Homo sapiens: one gene and its partner. Each later gene encodes a partner of the first gene's protein in a complex. Each region holds a gene or a part of one and is shown in the gene's direction. Other genes may lie near its edges. The genes, in order: NUP153 and NUP214.

The links.
Region 2: NUP153 (region 1) and NUP214 share a complex: the UniProt entries of both Homo sapiens proteins name them as parts of the nuclear pore complex.

Annotation. Positions count from the first base shown.
Region 1 is NC_000006.12:17,695,899-17,704,793, reverse strand, and holds part of NUP153 (nuclear pore complex protein Nup153), read left to right. Parts: intron 1-8,895. UniProt on the Homo sapiens protein: Component of the nuclear pore complex (NPC), a complex required for the trafficking across the nuclear envelope. Functions as a scaffolding element in the nuclear phase of the NPC essential for normal nucleocytoplasmic transport of proteins and mRNAs.
Region 2 is NC_000009.12:131,225,946-131,234,840, forward strand, and holds the end of NUP214 (nuclear pore complex protein Nup214), read left to right. Parts: intron 1-2,214; coding exon 2,215-2,386; intron 2,387-4,684; coding exon 4,685-4,824; intron 4,825-6,338; coding exon 6,339-6,363; intron 6,364-7,508; coding exon 7,509-7,542; 3' UTR 7,543-8,718; downstream 8,719-8,895. UniProt on the Homo sapiens protein: Part of the nuclear pore complex. Has a critical role in nucleocytoplasmic transport.

The DNA of each region.
Region 1 (8,895 bases):
AGCGAGACTCTTGTCTCGAAGAAAAAAAAAAAAAGTAAAGATTTGAGGAATTTTTTTTTTTTTGTCTTCTAGTTTTCTTAAATGTTTTTTATTTTGAGGGAAATGTTTGAGTAGTAAAAATTGTGGTTCAGGTATTTTCAGTCGTTCTCTACTGATGGTTAGGTTTGGCACTGTTACTACTCCCACCAGTTTTCCCCCAGATATGTACATAAAGTGCTTAGTTTTCAAATTTGTGAAGAAAAGGGGTATTTGCGAGCAGATTTAAGATTAGAATTCAGGTCACAAGCCTGGCCATTTAACCTAATCCGTCTGTAGAATGGAAGTTACACATGCATGCTTTCTTTTCTCCTATGAATGCCTTTGAGTGCTTAGATTTTCTTGTATGACATGTAGAAAAATGACTTGTTTTAAATATAGGTCATTGGATGGTCTGAATAGAGGTTAGAAGGGAATTAATATTTTCCAGATGTCTGAAGTTATCACAGCTTTTTTTTTTTTTTTTGAGACGGAGTCTCGCTCTGTCACCCAGGCTGGAGTGCAGTGGCGCGATCTTGGCTCACTGCAAGCTCCGCCTCCCGGGTTAATGCCATTCTCCTGCCTCAGCCTCCAGAGTAGCTGGAACTACAGGCGCCCGCCACCACGCCCAGCTAATTTTTTGTATTTTTAGTAGAGACGGGGTTTCACCATGTTAGCCAGGACGATCTCGATCTCCTGACCTCGTGATCTCCCCGCTTCGGCCTCCCGAAGTGCTGGGATTACAGGCGTGAGCCACCGCGCCCGGCCCCTGATCACAGCTTAAATGTACTTAGATAAAATAAAAATCTAATTTTGGGGAGATGATGTCTTAACAGCATAACACCTATGATCCAAGGTGTCTTAGAGTTGATACGACTTCAGGCTGTGTAGTTTTGTTTTAAATCTTGATAATTTATCATTGCCCCTTATCTAAAATACTTTTGCTTCTTGTCCTATTTAATTAAAAAAGAAAACATATTTTAGCTTTTGAATTGGGAAGTAAAGGTATTTAGGGGTTTCTTGATCAACACTGTAGGTGCTATTTAATATTGGCAGAAACTACCACTACCCAAGGAAAGTATTCAGGTATATTCAAAAGAATACTCTCCTTTTTTTTTTTTTTAATCTTAAAAATAAGGACTTTCTTTAGTCCTTATTGAGGCTTTGGTGGACATAGGGTCTACCCACTTGCTGTTTATTATCCTAGGCTGTCAACTGGATGTTTTGCAGAAGCTGCTGAGTCATCATGAAGCAAGCTTCATGACATGGCATGTTTTATACTAATGTTATTTGATTAAGTGTCCAAGGGTTTCTGGGCAAAAATTAAGCTTTTGGTAGTATAGCAGAAAGTTGGAGTAAGAAACAATGAGAGGTCTGGCGCTGTTAGTTAATGGATGTTTGCCAGTGCCTGTCAGGGCAACTTGGCTAGTACAGTCACCCAGTACCTATGACTTCTGCATGTGTTCATTTGACTTGTAATTTCCTGTTTTGACTTCTGGGTTTAGCTCTCCTGGGAAATGCTGTAAGTTTACTACTTTCCTTCTTTAACTTATTTTTTTTTTAATTTTTTTTTTTTTTTTTGAGATGGAGTCTCGTTCTGTGGCCCAGGCTGGAGTGCAGTGGCTCGATCTTGGCTCACTGCAACCTTTGCCTCCTGGGTTCATTCCATTCTCTTGCCTCAGCCTCCCAAGTAGTTGGGATTACAGGCATGCGCCACCACGCCCGGCTAATTTTTGTATTTTTAGAGACGGGATTTCGCCATGTTGGTCAGGCTGGTCTCAAACTCCTGACCTCAGGTGATCCACCCGCCACAGCCTCCCAAAAGTGCTGGTATTACAGGCGTGAGCCACCGCGCCCGGCCCAAATTCTGATCTTTAAAATGTCATCTTGCATGAAGTTGTGCAGACAAATTCATTGTCTTGCTCAAATAACTGAAGAGTTATAAGGGTAATAACTCTTAAGAATTGTAGAAGCAAATATGAAGAACAGCCCTGAATAATGCAAGCTGATCATTCTTACTTGCCTTCTCCCCTACCCCTTTACCTTTTTGCCTAGATGCATTTAGGAAATGGTGTCATTTTTCTTTTCTCCTTTCTTTTTTTGAGACGGAGTTTTGCATCTGTTGCCCAGGCTGGAGTGCAATGGTGCAATCTCGGCTCAGTGCAACCTCTGCCTCCTGGGTTCAAGCTATTCTCCTGCCTCAGCCTCCCGAGTAGCTGGCATTACAGGCATGCGCCACCACAAACGGCTGATTTTTTTTGTTTTGTTTTTGAGACAGAGTCTCGCTCTGTCACCCAGGCTGGAGTGCAGTGGCACGATCTCTGCTCACTGCAAGCTCTGCCTCCCGGGTTCACGCCATTCTTCTGCCTCAGCCTCCCGAGTAGCTGGGACTACAGGTGCCTTGCCACCACGTCCGGCTAATTTTTTGTATTTTTAGCAGAGACGGGGTTTCACCGTGTTAGCCAGGATGTTCTCGATCTCCTGACCTTGTGATCCACCCGCCTCGGCCTCCCAAAGTGCTGGTATTACAGGCATGAGCTACCTCGCCCGGCCAGAAATGGTGTCATTTTTCTAGTTGAGAGTGAATAGGTAACTGAAGAGAATGTGGTTAGTTCCTGTCTTCCTTTTCCATTTCCTTTTTGTTCAGATTGTCAGGCACAGAAAGTCAGCTCTTTGGAGAGGTCAGGCTGCTTGCTTTTCTTAGTAACCACTACAAAAAACTTGAGTCCATGGGCAAACCAGAACCTACTGCCACCTCCTGGTGAGAGGAAACCACTTATTTTTGCCCTTTTTGTCCCGGGATGGGGGTGGGGTGGGGTGGTGTGGGTAGTATGCTTCAGACATTTATCTTCTGGTTTAGAGCTAAGGGACTCCGCCTTTAATCCTCCTAGATATAGTTTGTCTTACAAGTCAGTTCCTGCATTTAGCTTTTTTCCCCCCCCCCCCGAGACAGAGTCTTGCTCTGTTGCCCAGGCTGGAGTGCAGTGGCACAATCTTGGCTCACTGCAACTTCTGCCTCCCGAGTTCAAGCAGCTCTCCTGCCTCAGCTCTTGAGTAGCTGGGATTACAGGCGCAGGCCACCACGCCTAGCTAATTTTTGTATTTTTTTTTTTTTTTTGAGATGGAGTCTTGTTCTGTCACCCAGGCTGGAGTGCAATGGTGCGACCTCGGCTCACTGCAACCTCCGCCTCCTGGGTTCAAGCAGTTCTCTGCCTCAGCCTCCCGAGTAGCTGGGACTACAGGCACGTGCCACCACGCCCAGCTAATTTTTGTATTTTTAGTAGAGACAGGGTTTCACCATCTTGGCCAAGCTGTTCTTGAACTCCTGACTTCCTGATCCACCTGCCTTGACCTCCCAAAGTGCTGGGATTATGGGTGTGAGCTACCACACTCGGCCTAATTTTTGTATTTTTAATAGAGACTGGGTTTCACCAAGTTGGCCAGGCTGGTCTCGAACTCCTCACTGCGTGGTCTGGCCTCCTCGGCCTCTCAAAGTGCTGGGATTATAAGCGTGAGCCACTGCACCTGGCGCATTTAGCTTTTTTTTTTTTTTTAGACAGAGTTTCGCTCTTGTTGCCCAGGCTGGAGTGCAACGGCACCATCTTGGCTCACTGCAACCTCCACCTCCTGGGTTCAAGCAACTCTCCTGCTTCAGCCTCCCAAGTAGCTGGAATTACAGGCATGCGCCACCACTCCCAGCTAATTTTGTATTTTTAGTAGAGATGGGGTTTCTCCATGTTGATCAGGCTGGTCTCGAACTCCCGACCTCAAGTGATCCATCCACCTGCCTTGGCCTCCCGCGAAGTGCTGGGATTACAGGCATGAGCCACTGCTTAGCTATTTTTAAAAAGGGGAAGGAAACCTCTTTATCAGTAGCTTAGATCAGGGGTCAGTAAACTTTTTCTGAAAGGGACACAGATAGTGAATTTTTAGGCTTTGCTGTGGTAAATTGTCCTTTGTTTTGTTTTTAAAAGTCCTTTAGCAAATGTAAAAACCATTCTTAGCTTGTATGAAAAAAGACCAAGGTCTGAATTTGGCCCAGCCCACAGGTCATTGTTTGCTATACCATGGTTTATATGATAGTATTGTTTTTATTTGTTTTGGTAGCTTCTTTGTGATACTCTGTCCCAAATAAGTATGTCCTGCCTGGTATCTGATAGCTGGAGTGTTCTCAGATTTGAAAAGGAGGGATATTTAGAGGTCGAATATTTAAATCATTCCAGAAGTCACCAAGTTTTTAACTTTTATTTTATCCTTATTTGCTTTATCCTAGATGCTTAATATAATCAGTGGGAATAGAAATGGAAACATTGATAGGATTGGATAGTTGATAGGATAGTTGTTAGGAAAACATTGTAGTGTAATGGAGTCAGCCTGAGTTTGGATCCCTGTTCTGCCTGGACTTGGACAAGTTAATTTACTCATCTGTAAAGTGAAAATTGTTGTGGAGGTTAAATGGGACAAGTGAAGATTTTAGAACAGGACCTGGCATATGTATATAGGTAAGGAGTTATTAAAAATTGAGTCCTTATTATATATATGCAATTGAAATTTGAAATTAAATAGAACTGTTTGATTTAGGATCTTTTTTTTTGTGGGAGACCACAGTTTTATTATTACTCAAATTAGTCTCCTGATTTAGGGTCTTCATATTGTCTCTGAATTTTCCTGCTTCTTATCAGAAGTTTTGTTTCCTTTAGGTGACTAAATTCAATACTTGCATGTATTAAATTGTTTAATGCAAAGTAGGTGTTTTGTTTGTGATGAGAGGTTTTGTGTGGTATTATATTAATTTACTTAATTTTTCTAATAAGTGACAAAAAAGTCCACTTGCTGTATCCATTTTCTGGGAAGTCCCTGACAAGGCAGATATCTTAGTTTGAAGTAAAATAAAAATTGTAGTCTGATGTCACTAATTAAAACTGTTTACTTTTCTTTTTTTTTGAGACAGAATCTAGCTCTGTCACCCAGGCTGGAGTGCCATGCTGTGATCTTGGCTCACTGCAGTCTCTGCCTCCCAGGCTCAAGGGATTCTCCTGCTTCAGCCTCCTGAGTAACTGGGGTTACAGGTGTGTGCCACCACGCCTGGCTATTTTTGTATTTTTAGTAGACACGGGGTTTCACCATGTTGGTGTGGTGGTCTCAAACTTCTGACCTCAAGTGATCTGCCCTCCTCGGCTTCCCAAAGTGCTGGGATTACAGGCGTGAGCCACCTTGCCCAGCCAAAACCATTTTCATTAGGCACAGAGTATTGCAAAGATTGTAATTATCTTGTATTTTCTTTTTTTTTTTTTTTTGAGACGAGTCTCGCCCTGTCACCCAGGCTGAAGTGCAATGGTGCGATTTCGGCTCACTGCAACCTCCGCCTGCCAGGTTCAAGCAATTCTCCTGCCTCAGCCTCTGGAGTAGCACGCACCATTATTCCTGGCTAAGTTTTTATATCTTTAGTAGGGACGGGGTTTCACCATGTTGGCCAGGCTGGTCTTGAAGTCCTGACCTTGTGATCTGCCTGCCTCAGATTCCCAAAGTGTTGGGATTACAGGCTTGAGCCACCACGCCCAGCTAGCTTGTATTTAAAAAAAAAAAAAATTATTTGTAGCTATTTAGCTTATCTTCATGGTTGTAATATATTTTTAAAAGATTCTTCTGTGTTGGGAAGTTTGGTTTCAAGTCTTGCTGACACATACCATTTACTGTCAGAAACAGGATGATAGGATGCCTTTTCTATCTATAGATATTTCAGTTTGCTTGATTTTGCATATCTTTTTCTTAGTGTGATTTAAGAAACAAACTCTTACTCCCAATTTTCAAACATGTTACCTGAGAAAAAGTGTGATAGTATCTTGTAGGTAACTTTTAGTGAGTTTAACTACTGTGAGCTTTTATTGAGTTTTCTTTTTTTTTTTTTAAGACAGTGTCACTCTGTTGCCCAGGCTGGAGTGCAATGGCACGATCTTGGCTCACTGCAACCTCCGCCCCGCTCTGGGATTCAAGTGATTCTCCTGCTTCAGGCTCCCAGCTCTTTTTTTTTTTTTTTTTTTGAGACAGAGTCTTGCTCTGTCGCCCAAGCTGGAGTGTAGTGGCGCGATCTCGGCTCACTGCAAGCTCTGCCTCCCGGGTTCACGCCATTCTCCTGCCTCAGCCTCCCAAGTAGCTGGGACTACAGGTGCCCACCACCACGCCCCGCTAATTTTTTGTATTCTTAGTAGAGATGGGGTTTCACCATGTTAGCCGGGATGGTCTCAATCTCCTGACCTTGTGATCCGCCCACCTCGGCCTCCCAAAGTGCTGGGGTTACAGGCGTGAGCCACCACGCCCGGCTGCTCCCAGCTAATTTTTGTATTTTTTCGGTAGAGACAGGGTTTCGCCATATTCCCCAGGCTGGTCTCCAACTCCTGGACTGAAGCAGAACCCCTGCCTTGGCCTCCAAAGCACTGAGATTACAGGCGTGAGCCACGGTGCTTGGACCTGAATCTAGTTTCAATAATCTGAATTTAACATCCAAATCTAAGACATTATTGGTTGTATTTTATAAGCCTATGCCATTCAGCAGCGAAGTTTACCCTATCCAATCAGTCCAAGTCCTCTAGCCATTTAAAGTACTTTTCTAGCTGAAGAATTAAAAACCTGCTCCCTGGGAGAATAAGATTCCAGAACCTTAAAACTGATGATGGACTGCATTTGATATTTATAGTTAAAGATCCAGTGAAACTATTTGAGAAAGGAGATTTTATAATCTGAACACTGCTAAGGATAATGTGAAGAAAAGGGAGTTGAACAGAACTGAAGTCAAGAAAACTAGTAGGAAGAAAAGAGCTTTGTATAGAAGGAAGGAAGGATATATAGGAATGACAAGGAGTTGGCCATACTGAAAAGATGCCTCTGGTTATTCCTGTGAAAAGGTTTATAAGAAAAGAATGTCGTTAATTACAAGTGAGTTCTGAGTTAGTGTTATAGAATAGCCTTCCCCCACCCCAGCTGTTTCTGAGTTAGTGTTATAGAATAGCCTTCCCCCACCCCAGCTGTTTCTGAGTTAGTGTTATAGAGTAGCCTGCCCCCACCCCAGCTGCCTTTCATTAATCCTTTTTTTTGAGATGGAGTCTCGCTCAGTCGCCCAGGCTGGAGTGCAGTGATGTGATCTCGGCTCACTGCAACCTCTGCCTCCTGGGTTCAAGCAATTCTCCCTCCCTCAGCCTCTCAAGTAGCTGGGATTACAGGTGCCTGCCACCACGCCTGGCTAATTTTTGCATTTTTTAATGGAGACAGGGTTTCGCCATGTTGGCCAGGCTTGTCTTGAACTCCTGACCTCAGGTGACCTGTCTGCCTCAGCCTCCCAAAGTGCTGGGATTACAGGCATGAGCCACTGCGCCCAGCTCATTAATCCTTCAACTCAGGTTAAATATAATTTGAAAAGCTAATGTATTCACAATACCTTATACGTTGAATGTTCCTGATATGTATGTAGTATTGAATTCTAATCCCCAGATTGAATTTTTAATTAGTCTAAATCTCAGTGGCATTTTTGACATGTTTTGCCAAATGAAGAACCCTTCTTTCTTGGAGAGAGAATACCCAGTGGATTTAGCCAGTTCACATTCTAAAATTCACTCCTTTAATCCTTGAACTTAAATTTATTATTTATGATTATGAAGTGTGGACTTTGCTTTAGGGCCACAGAGTATTTTTTAAGATTAATTTTTTTTTTTTTGAGACGGAGTCTTGCTCTGTAGCCCAGGCTGGAGTGCAGTGGTGTGATCTGGGCTCACTGCAACCTCCGTCTCCCAGGTTCAAGTGATTCTCCTGCCTCAGCCTCCTGGGTAGCTGGGATTACAGGCGGACACCACCTGCCAGCTAATTTTTGTAGTTTTAGTAGAAATGGTATTTCACCATGTTGGTCAGGCTGGTCTCAAACTCCTGACCTCAAGTGATCTGCCCACCTCGGCCTCCCAATGTGCTGGGATTACAGACGTAAGCTACTGCACCTGGCTGTTTTTTAAGATTTTATTTATTTGTTTTATTTTTTTGAGATGGAGTCTTGCTCTGTGGCCCAGGTTGGAGTGCAGTGGCGCCATCTTGGCTCACTGCAAGCTCCGCCTGCCGGGTTCACGCCATTCTCCTGCCTCAGCCTCCCGAGGAGCTGGGACTACAGGCATCCACCACCACACCCAGCTAATTTTTTATATTTTTAATAGAGACGGGGTTTCACCGTGTTAGCCAGGATGGTCTCGATCTCCTGACCTTGTGATCCACCCGCCTCGGCCTCTCAAAGTACTGGGATTACAGGCGTGAGCCACCGTGCCTGGCCTTGTTTTTAAATCTTAAAGCACTTTTCAGGTCCATACAGAAAGCTTATTTCCCTCATGCCTGCTTATTTCCTGTAAAGACCTGAAGAACTCTTCTCTCAAGAACTCCTCAAAACATAGGTGGGTTACATTGGGCCTTCCTTGGTAGTAAGGTCAAAGGAACCTTTTCTTCCATAAGAAAACCGTTTTTCCTCTTGTCAGACTCTTTTTACTCTTATTTGTTAGTGGCTGAAGTCTTTAGTACTTCAAAACTCTTTTAAAAAACTGCCAGTCAAGGAGGTACCTCTCCAGATCTGTTTGGTAGGCAGGGTCCCTTAACTTTTTTGGGGTTGGTTGGTTTGTTTGTTTTGAGACAGTTTCACTCTTGTCACCCAGGCTGGAGTGCAATGGCACGATCAACTGGAACATCAACTTCATTTTATTTTCAAAAAATTGTTCCAGTATTTTCTTTTTCTGTTTTTTTTTTTGAGACGGAGTCTCACTCTGTCACCCAGGCTGGAGTGCAGTGGTGCAATCTCAGCTCACTGCAAGCTCCGCCTTCCGGGTTCACGCCATTCTCCTGCCTCAGCCTCCTGAG
Region 2 (8,895 bases), on another chromosome or scaffold:
CCACCATGGTCAGTGGTCTACACCCTGCTGTCTCGCTAAAGTGTTAGATTTGGAGGGAGGCAGGCAGGGGATGAATGATGGGGAAGATGAGAGGTGGGCGTTTGAGTCGCACAGACCTTGTTCCAGTCCCAGCTCTAGCACCCATCAGCTGGCTGAAGTTGGGACAAGTGGCATATTCTCTAAGTCTCAGTTTCCTCCCCTGTGATGTAAGGATCCCAGGCTTATTGGGAAGATTTAAGAAAACTGCTGTGAAGCACCTGGCATATAGTGGGCCCTCAATAAATCAGAAAGTTTATCATCATTGATTATTAGAAAATTTGTTTCTTCTGGAGAAGAAATTTATGAAAATACGGCAACTGATAAAATCAAACCCCTCCTGCCATCAGGAGAGAGTTGCCTCTTTAAGCCAGAGTGACTGTTTTCTTCCTGTTTAATTTGGCTGTGACCCAGGTGTGTTGTTTGGGGGCTTTTTCTCTCTGTGTATATTTAACCGCCACCCCTCCCCTGTCCAGTTTATTTTCTGTATCATCATGACTTCCCATTTTTCACTCACCTTCCACCAAGAAGTCTAAGCAATATTGATACAAGGTACTAGATAGCGCCCTGCATGTCTAGGAAGAAAGTGTAACTAGATCTGTGATCAGTCTTAAATAATTCAACTGTAAGGGTTTTTTAGCACTTTTTTTTTTCCAGTCTGTTATATTTATAACCCAACAGTCTCCATTATCATGGCTTGGAATTTCACTCAGTGTTTTAACATGCGGAATGTTAACCCAAACACGAGCCTTAGCAAAAAAGTATCTTCTCAGTTGTGCAGCCTACCACTGTTAATGGCAAATAGGCACATGAGTGAATCACAAAATAACAGTTAACTGAGGGATTCAGCTGACAACTTTTCATACCCAGGATTTGATCTTTCCTGATTCAGATGGCAGAAGCTTGTGTTGTGATTACATAAACAATAAGAAGTCTGGATTTCATCCCTCTAACAACAGATTGACTTTCTGAAAGGGGAGAAAAGGCTTGTCGCTAGGCCACCATTACTCCCGCTAGCACGCAGTTCATAGGCCAACACTCACCTTAAGAAGTACTCCCTTTAGAGGGTGCTCCCAGTTAGAGCACATTTCTTATGCCATTCTATTCCATTCATTCAAGAAGACACTCACTGAGTGTCTATTCTAATACTTTAGAATGATTTCAGCAGTATCTTGGAAGTTTGGGAACCCGCATCAGGAATAGCTCAGGAGAGGATGTTTTGTCTTCCTGCCTGACAGGCATCACCAGCAATCAGAGTAGGGTGCCCTGTGCGTGACCTGACCCTTGTCTGTGTGGCCACCTGTGTGGTGCTGCCCTCTGGCAGCCTGAGCCCACTGGGCAGCAGTGTTGGCAACGTTGCAGAAGGCATCTGAACTCTAGGGCTGTCCTCACTGTTGACTTATTATTTTATTAGATTTATGCAGCAGCCTGCCTCCAAAGAAGAAATTTGGTGTGTTTTTTCATTGGGAAGTAATTCCAGACTGCAGGAAAAAAGCATTTAAAAAAAAAAAAACAAACCTCCACTGAGCGAGAGAAAGGGAGACTCTGATGAGAGACGTAGGAGCCATCAGGCTGTAAATAAATAAAAAGCACCTGGCTGGGCGCCAGCATACACGTCTCTGTCTCTGCTATGACCCAATTCAGGGATTCTCCCTGAGAGGAGGTTTTGAGCCTCTGATTTTATAATTTGGGTTTCTATGAAGCTGGATGTCTTGCCTGTGTACTGATAAGTAATATAGTCTGTCATCTTTTGTCAGCTAGGTAGGGATTGGAGTTTTTGAGAATGGTTTTTCACTCCAAACAGCTCAGAGGACCTGGGAGGGGTGGAAGGTGCACCGAGTGGGCTCTTGGAGGTCTGCTCACACGGCTTCACAGTGACTTCACAGGGTCTGCAGGAGCTCTCCTGAGTGGACCCCAGAGCCCTCTGCTAGGAATGGAGGGGAGTGGTTTGGTTTGAGGGCTTTTGTTTTGTTGTTTTCATTACTATTTTCTTGATAGAAGGGCGGGGGGGAGGGGGGGTGTTGCCCTTTACTCTAGTTCTTGCATTTGAATTGCTAACATCCTCTTTTCCCTTTTTTCTTCCTATTTTGATTTGGTTTCTCATTGCTCAATGTCTTCTCTTCCTGTCTCCTCCTTTCTTTCTCCCTATTTCTGTTTGTTTGCCTCTGTTTTGCTCAGGTGGCTTCGGTGCTGCTCCAGTGTTTGGCAGCCCTCCTACTTTTGGGGGATCCCCTGGGTTTGGAGGGGTGCCAGCATTCGGTTCAGCCCCAGCCTTTACAAGCCCTCTGGGCTCGACGGGAGGCAAAGTGTTCGGAGAGGGCACTGCAGCTGCCAGCGCAGGAGGATTCGGGTAAGCCCCCTGGGGAGGGCCCTTGGGAACCCACACGCCAGCCAAAAAGCACTAGGGGCCTGTACTCTTGCTCTGAAAAGAAATTTGACCATGAGGTGAAGGCCCCTCCCTTGAAATTTGTGAACAACTCCCTCAAGGATTCCTGTACCTCTCCAGGGTAAGACTCATTTCGTTCAAGCCAGGCTTTGTTGAATTCATGGTGGACCTCAGCTGTGTTGCTGTTCCCTGGTATGAGAAATGCTGGTCATCAGAGCCCCTGTTCTCCTGCTGGGGCTAAAGGAAGGCACCAGCCCTGCCTTAACTACTGCTTTGTAGCCAAGAGGTGCCCCGGTGTGGAGCTTCTGTTAGGAAGTCCTCAATGAATGGTTTTCACCAGATTCTTTCCTCTTGGGATTATTCTGTGTTAGACCCGTTGTCCTTGAACAAACAACTCCCTGTGTCCCCTGCTCCCCTGCAGCCCCCCAGAGTGAGTATTCAGTTGCACAGGTCCTCCCGTGGGAAGATCCTGGATGATCAGGGATTTCGAAGCTGCTCTCATTGCCTCGTGTGCGTCTGCACTGGAAAAGGCCATTTTTAGGGAGTCGCTTTTAAGGGCAGAATTTCAGTGTGGTTGCCAAAACCCCAAGGGAAAAAAACCTTCACCACACCACAACATCCCAATTTAAAAAATGTACACGGGATGACTACCAAGTCTCTTGTTCAAAGGAGGTGTCGATGCCTGAAAGGAGTTCTAAAACGCCTCTTGCCGCAGTACTGGGCTCAGCATGAGCTGAAGGTTTGGGGGAGGGGAGATGATTTTGTCTAGGGGAATTGTTGAGATACTTGGATCTGAGTCTTGGCAAGATGACAGCATCTTTATCTTGAAAATAAACTATAGTATGTTCTTACTCACACCCTTCCCCTCCGTGCAAGATGCTGGAGCGCAGCAGCAGGAGTGAGAGGGTTGGCGTGCTGCTTCTCCTGTTTCACGGGAGACTGATGCCTTAGGTTTGCCCTCAGGAAACCCCAAGAATTAAAGTTAAGGAAAGCTTTGAAAGGACAGTTAGAGACCCACTTAGGCTGGTATTCTCAGAGGTCTTAATGGATGCTGTTCTCTGCAGTGATGAACCAGCACACAGTACCACAGAGTTGGTAGAAGGTTTGGGTTGGCTGGGTATCTTGTGAATTGATTTATTTATTTGAAACCAGCTGTTTTCTTTACTAGTAGAAAAGTATATTCTGCCTTGGGGCGGCTCTCACACAAATCCCGATTGGCTGGTTAGTCAGTCCTAAAAAAGGTTAATGCCAGGTCAGTTATTAAATCTCCATAAGAGCCCATTACCTTCTTCCAGGTCCCTGGCCATGAGCCTGTCTCCGACCCTGAAGGGCAGGCTGTTGCTGATGAGGCCCAAGGCAGGAGGAGGAAGGGAGCAGGCCGCTCCTGGGAGAAAGTCCAATGAGAGCAGATCCCTTGGCCACCTTTGTATGGAAAGAGCCTTGACCTCACCATTAAAAGTGAATAGAATGGTGGGAAGGCAGAGTTTTAGATACTTTTTCTTGCTTTGGGGTTGATTCTTGCCCCCAGGTGCTGCCCCTTCTCCCAGAAACCACTGATCCGTTTCCCTCACCTAGTCACCTCCAGACCCCAGAAGCTCTCCCCAACCCAGCCGAGTTCCTCTGCAAACAATTCAAGGGGCTCTGATAGGTCACACAGTGCCACCTTGTGTGCTGGACCATATCTGGAGGGAGAACTGAGTGAGGGGGCACAGGGGATTGTCTCCAGGTGGGGCGAGCAGGGGAAGGAAAATAGTGGCCACTTTTACATTGGTTTGGGTAGTAATTATTGATTCAGGAAGCAAATACAAAATCCTGAATGAAATGACTTGGAAAAAGTAAATAGAATCAAGATCCCAAGAGGAGCTGAAGATAAATAAATGGGAGCAGGATGTGGGGGAATGGTCGGTAAGTGAGAAATGCTAAAATGATAGAATAAAGCTTAAGGATTGTTGGAGGTAGAGCAGGAACTGTGTACTGCATAGTTCCCAAATGCCCTGGTGTTCCAATGGGGGATGGAAACTAAAACACTGGCCAGGTTGGATTTCATACTGTAGTCCTGCCATTTTTCTTCCTAGAGCAGAGATAAAAGTTGGCCCTGGGCGATAGCTCATTCTCTCTGAAAGGCTGCTAGTTAGGCCCAGCCTGTCACCCTGGATCATGAGTGTCGTGTGTATTGGGACTTACAGCAGGGGGCTGAGGCTTGCAGATGGGCAAGTGGTGAGAGGCCCCACTGACCTCAGTCTGTTTCTCACTGGAGCGCAGGTTTGGGAGCAGCAGCAACACCACATCCTTCGGCACGCTCGCGAGTCAGAATGCCCCCACTTTCGGATCACTGTCCCAACAGACTTCTGGTTTTGGGACCCAGAGTAGCGGATTCTCTGGTTTTGGATCAGGCACAGGAGGTAAGCTGCCACAAGTTCTCCCCTCACAAGCAAAATGGGTCCCTCTTGCCTTCTCCCCCAAAGAAATGAGTATGTTTTACCTGACCAGTCTGTTTAGTATTTTAAAAGCTGACTGGGCACGTGGTTCACGCCTGTAATCCCAGCACTTTGGGAGACCAAGGCAGGAGGATCACTTGAGCCCAGGAGTTTGAGACTAGCCTGGGCAACATGGCAAGACTCCATTCTCTACAAAAAATGTTAAAATTCGCCAGACATGGTGGCACACACCTGTGGTCCCAGCTACTCGGGAGGCTGAAGCAGGAGGATCACTTGAGCGCTGCAGTGAGCTGTGATTGCACCACTGCACTCCAGCCTGGGTGACAGAATGAGACCCTGTCTCAAAATAAATAAATATGTAACATACTGAAAGTGGTTGAAACATATATATATATATATATTTTTGAGACGGAGTCTCGCTCTGTTGCCCAGGATGGAGTGCAGTGGCACAATCTCGGCTCACTATAAACTCCGCCTCCCGGGTTCACGCCATTCTCCTGCCTCAGCCTTTGAGTAGCTGGGTCTACAGGCGCCCGCCACCAGGCCCGGCTAATTTTTTGTGTTTTTAGTAGAGATGGGGTTTCACTGTGTTAGCCAGGATGGTCTCCATCTCCTGACCTCATGATCCACCCACCTCGGCCTCCCAGAGTGCTGGGATTACAGCACCTGGCATATATATTTTTTTTTAGGTTTTAGTTAGACTTAGAACACTGTGTCATTTCTTACCAAAGAAATTACTGTCTTGATTTCCTCTCAGGATTTGAGAAGCCCAAAATAATAATGGTCTTACTAGGCCTTGGTTTAAAAAATCTAAGCCAGCAGACTCAAAAAAAAAAAAAAAGGCATAGAAACTTCACAAAACATCTTGCATTTGTTTAACACTCTGCTTCTTCAGATGGCAGAATATGTGTCTTCCATTTTGTTCTTGCAGTAAACTGACAAGGCACAGAATTTAGGTATCATTACAATTGTACCCGTGAAGAAACAGAAACTCCAAGGAACTAAGTGTTAGCAGTTAGCAGTAGAACCAGGCCTAGAATCCAGCCATCTTGCTTCTCTGGCCCCCAAAAAGAAGAGGAAGCAAATGGATGGAAAAACAACAACAGCAAAAAAAAAAAAAAAAAAAAAAGGTTTTCCTAATGAATGGATCTATGTGGTCCAGTACAGCTGAGAGGCCAAGCCAGAGACCCTCTGCCTACAGCTGGGGCCGAGGAGGGAGGAAGAACCCTAAAATACCAAGAAGATAACTCATAAAAAGTAAAGGATTTTTTCTGCCTTCTGGGGGATCTGAGTAGCTCCAGAGGACAAACTCAGAATAAAGGGGCTTCTGTGTGTACCTTTCCTGCCTTCCTGTAGGTGGTGGAGGCACGGAGGGCTTCCCACAAGAAGCACAGAGGAGGGCAGACACTTAGCATGGGGACCACCTTTGTCTTTCGAGTGGATGCGTGCTTTAACTTCACTCTTATTCTGCTTTTCAGGGTTCAGCTTTGGGTCAAATAACTCGTAAGTATCCCCCTTTTTGAGTCTCACCTTAATTAAAAGCATTAAATAAGGTTGGAAGTGTGTGGATCTTGCTGGATTTGTGCATTTTCTTTTCGTTTTTTCCTGTTTTTAGAGTTTGTCCTGGAAGTGTGGGGGTTCAGCAGCAGGGTTTGGGTTTTGTGGACTTGCTCTTCTCTGTAGCAATATGGCAGGAGGTGCCAGGCCTCGCCTTCTTAAGAGGCGTGGTTCAAAGAGAAAAGAGCACGCCTGCCAGTGAGCTGGGCCTGAGGGCAGCGCTGAGGAGATGCTGCTCCTGACTTCCCTGGAGGTTTCTCAGAAGCTGCATGCTAACCCCTGGGCTCTGGGCCATCACCAGGTCTCATGTGTTGATCCACCCTCTGTGCTTCTGTGTAAAATTTCATGGCGTTAAAATTCAGTCTTAGCCAGGTGGGTGGTTCACGCCTATAATCCCAGCACTTTGGGAGGCTGAGGTGGGAGGATTGCTTGAGCCCAGGAGTCAAGACCAGCCTGGGCAACAGAGTGAGACCCCATCTCTACTAAAAATTAAAAAAATTAGCCGTGCATGCTGGCTTATGCCTGTGGTCCCAGCTACTCCAGAAGCTGAGGCGGGAGGATCACTTGAGCCTGGGAGGTTGAGGCTGCAGTGAGCCAAGATGGTACCACTACCGTCTAGCCTGGGTGACAGCCAGACCCTATATCAAAAGAAAAAAATATATATACTGGCCAAGCACGGTGGCTCACACCTGTAATCCCAGCACTTTGGCAGGCCAAGGTGGGCAGATATTTGAGGTCAGGAGTTCGAGACCAGCCTGGCCAACATGGTGAAACCCCATCTCTACTAAAAATATATATATATACATATATAGATAAACACACAAGAATTAGCCAGGCGTGGTGGTGCATGCCTGTAATCCCAGCCACTGAGGCTGAGGCAAAAGAAGCACTTGAGCCCGAGAGACAGAGGTTGCAGTGAGCTGAGATCACGCCACTGCACTCCAGCCTGGGCAATAGAGTGAGACTCTGTATCAAAAAAATAATAATAAAAAATCTGAGTCCTGACCTTTGCACACAGGCAGAGCAGCAGAGCCTGTGACTGCTCTGTGACAGAGCAGCTGACTCCACCACTGTCCTGTGCTTCCTTGCAGGTCTGTCCAGGGTTTTGGTGGCTGGCGAAGCTGAGGGCGTGTCAGCAGGCCTTTCGATCCCTGGGACCAACCGCATCCTCAGCTTCTTCCCCGAGAAATGCTGGAGCAGGCTGTTCAGACCGACGTTGCCATCAAAACACATACACCCAGAAAGAAACAACAGAAACCAAAACTCACAAGGCGCATGATTACTTGTTTTATATTTCATGTTGGGTTTTCCCTCCCACTATTAAACAGTCTGTTTCCGTACAGAACGTATGTGGGTTTTTTCAGATCACAGCCAAGAAGATTGCCCCGTTTCTGTGGCTCTGAGAAGCCAGCAGAGCCTCCATCAGCCAGAACACTGTGTCTTCAAGGATGGCATCAGAAGTCACCAGCGTCGGGTGTTGATAAACAGCATCGAATGTGCCGTGGTCTCACTTGGACCTAGCGCCCTCCACATAGGGAAGAGGTTGAATGCTGGTGGGTCATCTTTTTGAGGCTGAAACTTGGTTATCTCCTCTCCTTGTTCTTTTAGCCATTGTGTATCAGGACCATCCAAGGACGCACTCTGCGATTGAGTGGAGGCAGAGGAAGCCACTCATGCCAGCAGCAGTTGAGTTTCAGAAGCAGCCATAGCGCTTTTCAGTACAGTACAATAGTAGCCAGCGTGAGGCAGGACAGTGCTGCGCCTTAGCCGGCCTTGGCTCTCATCTCCATGTGGCTCTTGGGTGCCATGTGTCCTACTCCAGAGAGGAGGGGGCCGGTCACTTGAGAAGACAGCCTTTATATTCTGTATGTGGCAGTGACATTGGTAGCCACACCTACCCAGTGTCTACTAACCACAGTGCAGATAGCCCTTGGGTAGACCCAGGAAGTGTGAAGACAGACACTGCTGTTGCCAGACAACACTAGCAGAACGATGCTGGATTTGACAACAGTGTTTGCTAGGACGGCCCAGAGCTCATCACTGCAGTTTTATTAGAGTGCTTCTTTATCTTTAATGCAGTATCTTTGAGGCCTGTAACATCCTAGATAGTTGCCATCAAACAAGGACCGTCTCGCATTGAAAACAGATGTAAGAATTTCTCTTTCAGGCCCAGAATCTGACAGTGCTTTGGCTTGGGTCATGAGCAGCGGGGAGTTGGGAAGAGATTTTTTTTTTTAGAGTTTTACATATTGGCAGGTTGTATTTTTTTAATGTTTTAATAAAAGTTTGACATGACATTAATTCATCATGTTGCAGACAGTGTGACCTCCTTGGTTCTGATGGCTTATGTGGGGACAGTAGACCATGGTGAGGTCTCCACTGTGTCACCACCTGGTCTGAAGGTCCCCATCTCGCCTGTGCCCCAGGGTCACCTGCAGAGTTCTTTGTCAAGTGCACATTCCCAGCCTCCATCCTGGG